Linked DNA regions of Homo sapiens: region 2 is linked to region 1. Evidence: fine-mapped expression QTL. Tissue or cell type: nucleus accumbens. Region 1 holds a variant in brackets; the other region holds the start of a gene. All regions are shown on one strand. Distances are between the middles of the regions. Region 1 has its middle 580 kb from the start of MIR548M. Region 2 holds the start of FAM133A (family with sequence similarity 133 member A).

Evidence for each region. PIP is the estimated chance that this variant, and not a neighbour inherited with it, causes the effect.
Region 2: it holds the start of FAM133A, and the variant in region 1 is fine-mapped to the expression of FAM133A in nucleus accumbens (GTEx, PIP above 0.99).

What each region holds. Positions count from the first base shown.
Region 1 is chrX:94,477,681-94,483,071 of GRCh38, reverse strand. No RefSeq gene overlaps it. Among named protein-coding and RNA genes, the nearest start is that of MIR548M, 580 kb to the left of the region's middle. The variant AACTTT/T (reference allele first, on the strand shown) is at 2,354.
Region 2 is chrX:93,671,284-93,676,674 of GRCh38, reverse strand. It overlaps FAM133A (family with sequence similarity 133 member A), which reads right to left and starts at 2,469. Exons shown (of 4, transcript NM_001171109.2): 1 at 2,401-2,469; 2 at 1,923-1,994. It overlaps NAP1L3 (nucleosome assembly protein 1 like 3), which reads left to right and starts at 3,097. Exons shown (of 1, transcript NM_004538.6): 1 at 3,097-5,391. The coding sequence starts at 3,371. The coding sequence ends at 4,891.

The DNA of each region.
Region 1 (5,391 bases):
ATGAAGCCAGCATCCTCCTGGTACCAAAACCTGGCAGAGACATAACAAAATAAGAAATCTGCCAGAGACACAACAAAATAAGAAAACTTCAGGCCAGTATCTCTGATGGACATTGATGCAAAAATCCTCAATAAAATACTGGCAAACCAAATTCAGCATCACATCAAAAAGCTTATCCACCACGATCAAGTCGGCTTCATCCCTGGGATGAAAGGCTGTTTCAACATATGAAATTAAATAAACATAATTCATCACATACACAGAACCAAAGACAAAAAGCACATGATTATCTCAACAGATGCAGAAAAGGCCTTTGATAAAATTCAGCATTCCTTCATGTTAAAAATTCTCAATAAACTGGGTATTGATAGAACATATCTCAAAATAATAAGAGCTATTTATGACAAACCCATGGTCAATATCCTATTGAATAGGCAAAAGCTGGAAGCATTCCCCTTGAAAACCTGTACAAGATAAGGGTGCCCTTTCTCACCACTCTTATTCAACATAGTATTGGAGGTCCTGGCCAGGGCAATCAGGCAAGAGAAAGAAATAAAGCGTATTCAAATAGGAAGAGAGGAAGTCAAATTGTCTCTGTTTGCAGACGACATGCTTCTACATTTAGTAAACTCCATCATCTCAGCCCAAAAACTCTTTAAGCTGATAAGCAACTTCAGCAAAGTCTCAAGATACAAAATCAATGTGCAAAAATCACAAGTATTCCTTTCTACCAACAATAGACAAGCAGAGAGCCAAATCATAAATGAACTCCCATTCACAATTGCTGCAAGAATAAAATACCTAGGAATACAGTTAACAAGGGATGTGAAGGACCTATTCTAGGAGAACTACAAACCACTGCTCAAGGAAATAAAACAAGACACAAATGGAAAAACATTCCATCCTCATGAATAGGAAGAATCAATACAATGAAAATGGCCAACTGCCTAAAGTAATTTATAGATTCAATGCTATTCCCATAAAAATACCATTGACATTGTTCACAGAACTAGACATAACTACTTTAAATTTCATGTGGAACCAAAGAAGAGCCCATATAGCCAAGATAGATAATCTTAAACAAGAAGAACAAAGCTGGATGCATCATGCTACCTGACTTCAAACTATACCACAAGGCTTCAGTAACCAAAACAGCATGGTACTGGTACCAGAACAGACATATAGACCAATGGAACAGAACAGGGACCTCAGAAACAACACCACACACCTAAACCATTTAATCTTCAACAAATCTGACAAAAACAAGCAATGGGAAAAGGATCTCCTATTTAATAAATGGTAGTGGTAAAACAGGCTAGCCATATGCAGAAAACTGAAACTGGAACCCTTCTTTATACCTTATATAAAAATTAACTCAAGATCTATTGAAGACTTAAATGTAAAACCCAAACCCATAAAAACCCTAGAGGAAAACCCAGACAATACCATTCAGCACATAGGTATGGGAAAAGACTTCATGACAAAAATACCAAAAGCAATTGAAGCAAAAGCCAAAATTGACAAATGGGATCTAATTAAACTAAAGAACTTCTGCACAGCAAAAGAAACTATCATCAGAGTACAGGCAACCTACAGAATGGGAGAAAATTTTTCCAATCTACCCGTCTGACAAAGGTCTAATATCCAAAATCTACAAGGAACTTAAACAAATTTACAAGAAAGAAACATGCAACCCCATGAAAAAGTGGGCAAAGGATATAAACAGACACATCTCAAAATAAGACATTTATGTGGCCAAGAAACATATGAAAAATAAAAGCTCAACATCACTGATCATTAGAGAAATGCAAATCAAAACCACAATGAAATTCCATCTCATGCCAGCTAGTACAAATTGCTCATATTTTAAAAGTAACCAGTATCAAATTGGAAAGGATTTGATTTAGGAGCCAAACCAAGGCTATCATAGTGGAAAAAAAAAAAAAAAGAAAAAAAAAGACAGAACCTTAACAATGGATCTGCAGTGTGGGGCAACAGCCATTGCTCTTACCATTCGGCTTGGCTAGCAAAATGTGGCCCTGTTAGACAAATAAAGTCCCTTTTTTAGTCAAAAGAAAAAAATCTCTCCCCTTTTTATTTTGTGGGAATTTAGACACTTCAGAGGCCTTGTTCCCATAAATTGGAACTTTCCTTCAGATTTCATCATGTCAGATAGAGTTGATCAAACCCAGTAGGAAAAAGACTGAAACAATAACAAAAACAGAAACAATTACAAAGGCAACAACAACAACAAAAAAAAACAATTAAGCAAAACAAATGAATATTACAATTTATATGAATACTGAGCACTCTAATGGTAAAGATAAATTAACACCAGCTGATTTTTAATCTT[AACTTT/T]AGCCCACAAAAAAACAAACAAAAAATAAAAATAAAAAAAAAACAATTCAGCTACTTACCTAGGAATGGGTCTTAGGCTGAAGACTGCTATCTACCATCCTAGAAGCAGGAAAAAACTCAGACTTGCCTTCCCTTTTGGAAGTTTGCTCAAACTCCAGAAAGGACTTACCTTCCTTCCAACATCATGGAAGCAGGAAAACTTGCCTTCCCTGTAAGAAGCAAGTGAAACTCCAAAAGGAGGAGTTGTACAGCAAAATAAGCTTTAGATCTTAACCAAATTTGGGGAGATCAGGGATTTTCTGGAGGGGGAGCTTACAGGCCTCAGCAAATTGCCCTATTGGTTTGAGCCATAAAAAAGCTCAAGCTGGTACCAAGCACCTATAGGAGATTCGTCAAAGTCAGGGGCACCTCCCCTCAGAATCCCTCTGTGGTTACTGATTGTGAATGCAAAATATCTGACACAGGTCTCAGTCAATTTAGAAAGTTTATTTTGCCAAGGTCAAAAATACACCTGTGATACAGCCTCAGGAAGCCCTGAGACATATGCCCAAGGTGGTCAGGGGTATAGTTTGCTTTTATACATTTTAGGGAGACATGAAACATCAATCAATATGTGTAAGATGTACACTGGTTTGGTTCAGTAAGGTGGGACAACATGAAGTGGGGCTTTGAAGTTAGAAGTAGATAAGAGAAAAAAGGTTGGATTCTTTTGAGTCTTTGATCAGCCTTCCACTGAATACACAATTTAGTCTGGCTCACTGAATCTGCATTTATACATAAACAATAGGGGATAGGGAGTAATCAAACATGTATTTGTCTCAGGTGAGCCTCGGAGGGATGACTTTGATTAGAATGGGAGGCAGGTTTGCCTGAAGAAGTTCCCAGCTTGACTTTTCCCTTTAGCTTAGTCATTTTTGGGTCCCAAGATTTATTTTCTTTTGACACAAATTACAAAGAAACAAAGACAAGTTAAAACCAATGTGGTGATAAAAATTCACTTTTATCTATATTAATGTTAATGTAATGTTTTACATTTCCCAATTATCAAATTATGCAAGGGAATTATAAAACAAAAATCATATTTTGAAGAAGCATGCAATTTCTTAAAATAATTTGGAGAAAATGTTTTTCTAGAACATAGCTTCATGTTCCTATTTGATTTCACCTTTGATTGTGATGTGGGTGTTTTATTCAAATAGCTACTGTCAAATTTCCAGTGCTTTAAATCACCTAATTAACTTTTCATTTTCACTATTGGATAAAGTTAGACTTATTCCTTGGCCTAGAAAGCATTTGCTTTTTCATGTGGTTTCTTTTCTTTATGTAATTTTATGTATTCTCATTTAAAAAAATGAGATAGGTGAACTATGTTAAAATATATATGCAAAACATAGCTTATCTTAGAATTACAACATTTTCAAATGAGGAAATTTAGTTAATTTAATTATGAATCTATGCAAGTATTTATATACAGACTTCAAGCATATTATGGTTGTTTTTCCTGGTGGAGTGACCCAAACCTTCATTTCTGAACGGTCTGAGCCATTGTTAGTCCTGCCTCGATTGAGCTGTTATAGTTTCCCATTGACTTTAATCACAGGGCATGGTAATACTAAGAGATGCCCCAAGGGATTGCCTGTATTCTGTGCATACTCTTCCTTACCCCCACTGTGGAGTAGTAGACTGATTTCATCTTGATAGTCCGGGTCAATGACCCCAGCAAACACTGTAACTCCTTTCTTAGCTTGTTGACTTAAAGGTAGGAGGAGCCCAAAGTGTCTAGGAGGCAATCTTAACTTCCAGTTTAATTGAAACATGTGTCTCTTCTGGTATTAAGACCTCTAGGCCAGCAGAATGTAACCTCATAGGAACAAGAAGGAAACATTTTGCTAGTGGATCACTAGGGGTGATGGTGAGTGGTGTCACTTCCACTTCCACCCCTTGATTTTGGGACCTGTGAATCCTGGCTATGGGAGAAAAAGTACCATATATTGGATGCTGATTTAGAGCATTCCTGGCCTTCTGGAGAACTTTGCCCCAGCCCTGAAAAGTATTGTCACCTAGATGGCACTGTAATTGTGACTTGAAAAGGCCATTCCACCATTCTATCAGTCCAGCTGCTTCAGGATGATGGGGAACATGGTAAGATCAGTGAATTCTATGAACATGAGTCCACAGCCACACTTCTTCAGCCGTAAAGTGAGTGCCTTGGTCAAAGGCAATGCTGTGTGGAATACCATGACAGTGGATAAGGCTTTCTGTGAGTCAAAGGATGGTAGTCTTGGCAGAAGCATTGTGTGCAGGATAGACAAACCCATATCCAGAGTTGGTGTCTATTCCAGTGAGGACAAACCTCTGCCCTTTCCATGATGGAAAAGGGCCAATATAATTAGTCTGCCACCAGTTAGTTGGCTGATTACCTTGAGGAATGGTGCCATATCGAGGGCTCAGTGCTGGTCTCTGCTCCTGGCAAATTGGTCATAGCCAGATCAGCCTTGGTGAGTGGAAGTACAGATTGCTGACCCCATGCATAATCTCCATCCCTGCCACAATGGCCACTTTGTTCATGGACCCATTGGGCAATGACAGAGCTGGCTGTGAGAAGAGGCTGAGTGGTGTCCACAGAACGATTCATCCTATCCACTTGATTATTAATCTTCTCCTTTGCTGAGGTCACCCATTGATGGAAATTCACATAAGATACAAATATCTTCACAGTTTTTGACCACTCAGAGAGGTCCATCCATATACCTCCTCTCCACATTTCTTTGTCACCAATTTTCCAATCATGCTTGTTCCAAGTCTTTGAACATCCAGCTAAACCATTGGCTATAGCCCATGAATCAGTATATAATCACATATCTGGTCATTTCTCCTTCCATGCAAAGTGCAGAATTGAGTTCACTGATTGAAATTCTGTCCACTGGAAAGATATCCTTTCACTGCTGTCCTTCAGGGATGTCCAAAAATTGTGTTGTAATGCTGTTGCTGTCCACTTTTGGTTGGTGCCTCCATATTGTGCAGAACCATCTG
Region 2 (5,391 bases), 810 kb after region 1:
TCTGTAATCCTTGAAAAGCATCCAAAAAACCCCACAAGTATCCAAAAAAAAAAAAACAACCAATTTTAATATGAAAGTAACTGAAAGTAATTTAGTCACATTTGCCCAATATCATGCGTTATTTCCTGAAGAAATCATAGTTGTCTTAAGTCAAGGCCAAAATCATTTTACCTTTAGGATTTCACCATTGATTAATTTCTTGCTTAATTCAGTGGCAAAAAAATATGAATAGACAATTCTCAAAAAAACATAAACATATGAAAAGACAATCTTACCACTAATCTAAGAAATATGAATACATAATATTGATAAATTAATTTGGAGATGTTGATTACAAATGTAAGTAGTGATTACTTCTCAGTGGTATTTTGAGTTACTTTTAATTTCTTCTTTGTATTTCAATGTATTGCCTGACTTTATCAATGAACACATATCATCTTCACAAAATGTAAAGTTATCTTAAAACCGACTCATTAGTTGTTTGCAGCAAACGTCTGACCAATGGATCAGAAAAGAATTTAGAGACAGACCCAAGCAATTTATTTAATGTGATCAAAATAGCATTTCAAGTAAGCAGGAGATAGAAAGATTACCAAATAAATGGTACTAGAAGAATTAGCTAGCTAATAAAAATAAATATTTTAAAAATCTGGATCCCTAACTCATGACTGACTCTAAAATACTAATTCCTAATGCTACAAAGTTTAAAACATAAGAGCATACATTTTTTTAAATCTCCATAATTTAAAATAAAAATAGTAAGTTTCAGAACAATATTTATGGTATAACATCAATGACGTAAATCATTGTTTCTATAACATATGTTTTGATTAAAATTATTCAACGAAAGGATATGCACTTAGTAAATTTCATTCACCATTATACTACAATCCTCTACCACATTTGCCCGGCATATGACAAGCACAAAAATATATTAGTTGAATAACAAAAAAATGAACTTTATGCACTGTTGGAACTGTAAATTGTGATAATAATTCTGCAGAGAGTTTGGCAATATGTATACAATAATAATTTCATAATATGAAATGATCATCCCCAAGCCATCCATTTCTAGGAATTTATCTTATGACCAATTTTCACAAGTGCATAGAAATACATGCTTTAGGTATCCAGGGACACTTTGATTATAGCAGGAAAATAGTATGTATTTAAGGGGAGAGATGGTATAGAAATGGCCACCCTATAACAGGAATCTGGTCAAATAAATTAAGGCAATTATTTCCATGGAATATGCACTTACTTAAAAATAAGATGTCGATCATTTGCCATGAAAATATAGCCATTAGTAATTGATAAATTAAATGAAAAGATTACAAAACATAATATGGTGTCACATAGATAAAGCAGTATACATAAATAGGCAGGTATGTATATGCACAAGGAAATTTCTGGAAGGAAGTGCATCAAAATGCTAGTAATTCTTATCATTTGGTGGTTAAGATTTTGTGTTTTTACTACTGTTGGAATTTTCTATATTGTTTTATCTTTGCAATGTTCACAGACTTTGACAATTAGAGATAAACAATAAAAGTAAATGCATTTATGAAACAGAAAAGCGTTTCCTAACTTTTAAAAAACGTGATTACATGACAAAGCACAAATTCTATAAAGATTAATCTAACTTTAATACATTTCCTCATTTGAAATGAATAATTTATCATATTTCATATTTTAATTTACCACTTGTATTCTATGACCAGGTTTAGATAGTTAATGCGGTTAAGTATGTAATTGTCTACATTAGTATGCCAAATTACCTCTGTGGATTTTCCTGTTTCCATAGAATTATCAAGATAATTCTCTAAAATAAATCTTTAAATGACTGTATCCTGTAAACTTTTATTCAGATGGAGATGAGTAATTTTTGTCATTCTTTAAAATGTGCTAAATATGATCCTTACCTTTCAATGAAAAGTAAATACTCGTCTTTTTTATTGTACCAAGGGAGTTGTTCTGTAGCAGAAAAAAAAATCCTGTAAATAAAAATAACAAATACTCGTTTTTAAACTTCATTTTGCAAAAGTTTATTCACATATTACTGGACTTGTAAATCATACTATAGTATGGCTAGAATTTTACAACATTAGAAGGAAATTGGTGGCAGATGACATCGCATACACTGACAGAAGATGCACATTCATTAGCACAAATTCCCCCTCCCATCCCACTGTTCTTGGAATTGAAACCTGCTGCACAAAAGTATAACGCAAATCATTTGCTTTTTAACAATACTACCTAACATTTAATACCTCTTTGTTTTATCTACAAGGTTGTTACAAGCATTGAGAAGGGCTACGTGGCAAGTTAGCAGCAAGGTTGGGGTATATAATATGCCAGCCTAAAAAGAGAAATATAATAAAAATGGTGTAACTGACTCACGGCAACATGGGTTCGCAAACCTTGTAGATGGATATAAACCAGGCTTGCCAAACATCACAGACAGCACTTATTAAATCAGCTTCGTGGAATGCAATACGCCTGCTGTCTAGTCCCTCCCTCCTCTGCCAATAACCGACTCTCCCCTTTTTTATCCAGTGTAAAAATGCATGCTCATAGAATATTTAGAGAAAATCGTTTTGTTTTTAAATCGTCCATAGTCACACTACCCAATGACGCCATTTGGACCATTTTCATTCAATTTTTTTTTTTTTTTTTTTTTTTTTTTACAGCTTTTTGTCAAGAGACCCGTGACAAACTAAACGGGAATTCAGGGTGGGCGGATGGGAGAAGGAAGACACGCCTCTTTTGCCCTTGTTAGGAACTATGGCTGGTATTTTTACCTCATGTCTACGCTTTTTTTTCTTTTTTAATTATAAAACTATAAATATAGACTTTTTGGGGGGCAGGGGGACACCTTCCAAGGGGTCGCACCTCAGCCAGCGAGCGGCGTCTGGGAAGGTGGGCGGAGCCAGGAGTAGTGGCGTTTGGCCGTTCGTTGGGCGTACAGTTTGTCAATTAAGGTGGACCAGCAAATGAGGAGCGAACTAAAGGCACACTGGGAACGAAATTAACGGGAGGTCTGACTGCAAGGGGAGGGGGCTCGCGATCTAAAACGAGAAGAGATCTCGGGGTCTCATACTGCGCCATTCGGCTGCGGTACATCTCGGCACTCTAGCTGCAGCCGGGAGAGGCCTTGCCGCCACCGCTGTCGCCCAAGCCTCCACTGCCGCTGCCACCTCAGCGCCGGCCTCTGCATCCCCAGCTCCAGCTCCGCTCTGCGCCGCTGCTGCCATCGCCGCTGCCACCTCCGCAGCCCGGGCCTCCGCCGCCGCCACTCAAGCATCCGTGAGTCATTTTCTGCCCATCTCTGGTCGCGCGGTCTCCCTGGTAGAGTTTGTAGGCTTGCAAGATGGCAGAAGCAGATTTTAAAATGGTCTCGGAACCTGTCGCCCATGGGGTTGCCGAAGAGGAGATGGCTAGCTCGACTAGTGATTCTGGGGAAGAATCTGACAGCAGTAGCTCTAGCAGCAGCACTAGTGACAGCAGCAGCAGCAGCAGCACTAGTGGCAGCAGCAGCGGCAGCGGCAGCAGCAGCAGCAGCAGCGGCAGCACTAGCAGCCGCAGCCGCTTGTATAGAAAGAAGAGGGTACCTGAGCCTTCCAGAAGGGCGCGGCGGGCCCCGTTGGGAACAAATTTCGTGGATAGGCTGCCTCAGGCAGTTAGAAATCGTGTGCAAGCGCTTAGAAACATTCAAGATGAATGTGACAAGGTAGATACCCTGTTCTTAAAAGCAATTCATGATCTTGAAAGAAAATATGCTGAACTCAACAAGCCTCTGTATGATAGGCGGTTTCAAATCATCAATGCAGAATACGAGCCTACAGAAGAAGAATGTGAATGGAATTCAGAGGATGAGGAGTTCAGCAGTGATGAGGAGGTGCAGGATAACACCCCTAGTGAAATGCCTCCCTTAGAGGGTGAGGAAGAAGAAAACCCTAAAGAAAACCCAGAGGTGAAAGCTGAAGAGAAGGAAGTTCCTAAAGAAATTCCTGAGGTGAAGGATGAAGAAAAGGAAGTTCCTAAAGAAATTCCTGAGGTAAAGGCTGAAGAAAAAGCAGATTCTAAAGACTGTATGGAGGCAACCCCTGAAGTAAAAGAAGATCCTAAAGAAGTCCCCCAGGTAAAGGCAGATGATAAAGAACAGCCTAAAGCAACAGAGGCTAAGGCAAGGGCTGCAGTAAGAGAGACTCATAAAAGAGTTCCTGAGGAAAGGCTTCAGGACAGTGTAGATCTTAAAAGAGCTAGGAAGGGAAAGCCTAAAAGAGAAGACCCTAAAGGCATTCCTGACTATTGGCTGATTGTTTTAAAGAATGTTGACAAGCTCGGGCCTATGATTCAGAAGTATGATGAGCCCATTCTGAAGTTCTTGTCGGATGTTAGCCTGAAGTTCTCAAAACCTGGCCAGCCTGTAAGTTACACCTTTGAATTTCATTTTCTACCCAACCCATACTTCAGAAATGAGGTGCTGGTGAAGACATATATAATAAAGGCAAAACCAGATCACAATGATCCCTTCTTTTCTTGGGGATGGGAAATTGAAGATTGCAAAGGCTGCAAGATAGACTGGAGAAGAGGAAAAGATGTTACTGTGACAACTACCCAGAGTCGCACAACTGCTACTGGAGAAATTGAAATCCAGCCAAGAGTGGTTCCTAATGCATCATTCTTCAACTTCTTTAGTCCTCCTGAGATTCCTATGATTGGGAAGCTGGAACCACGAGAAGATGCTATCCTGGATGAGGACTTTGAAATTGGGCAGATTTTACATGATAATGTCATCCTGAAATCAATCTATTACTATACTGGAGAAGTCAATGGTACCTACTATCAATTTGGCAAACATTATGGAAACAAGAAATACAGAAAATAAGTCAATCTGAAAGATTTTTCAAGAATCTTAAAATCTCAAGAAGTGAAGCAGATTCATACAGCCTTGAAAAAAGTAAAACCCTGACCTGTAACCTGAACACTATTATTCCTTATAGTCAAGTTTTTGTGGTTTCTTGGTAGTCTATATTTTAAAAATAGTCCTAAAAAGTGTCTAAGTGCCAGTTTATTCTATCTAGGCTGTTGTAGTATAATATTCTTCAAAATATGTAAGCTGTTGTCAATTATCTAAAGCATGTTAGTTTGGTGCTACACAGTGTTGATTTTTGTGATGTCCTTTGGTCATGTTTCTGTTAGACTGTAGCTGTGAAACTGTCAGAATTGTTAACTGAAACAAATATTTGCTTGAAAAAAAAAGTTCATGAAGTACCAATGCAAGTGTTTTATTTTTTTCTTTTTTCCAGCCCATAAGACTAAGGGTTTAAATCTGCTTGCACTAGCTGTGCCTTCATTAGTTTGCTATAGAAATCCAGTACTTATAGT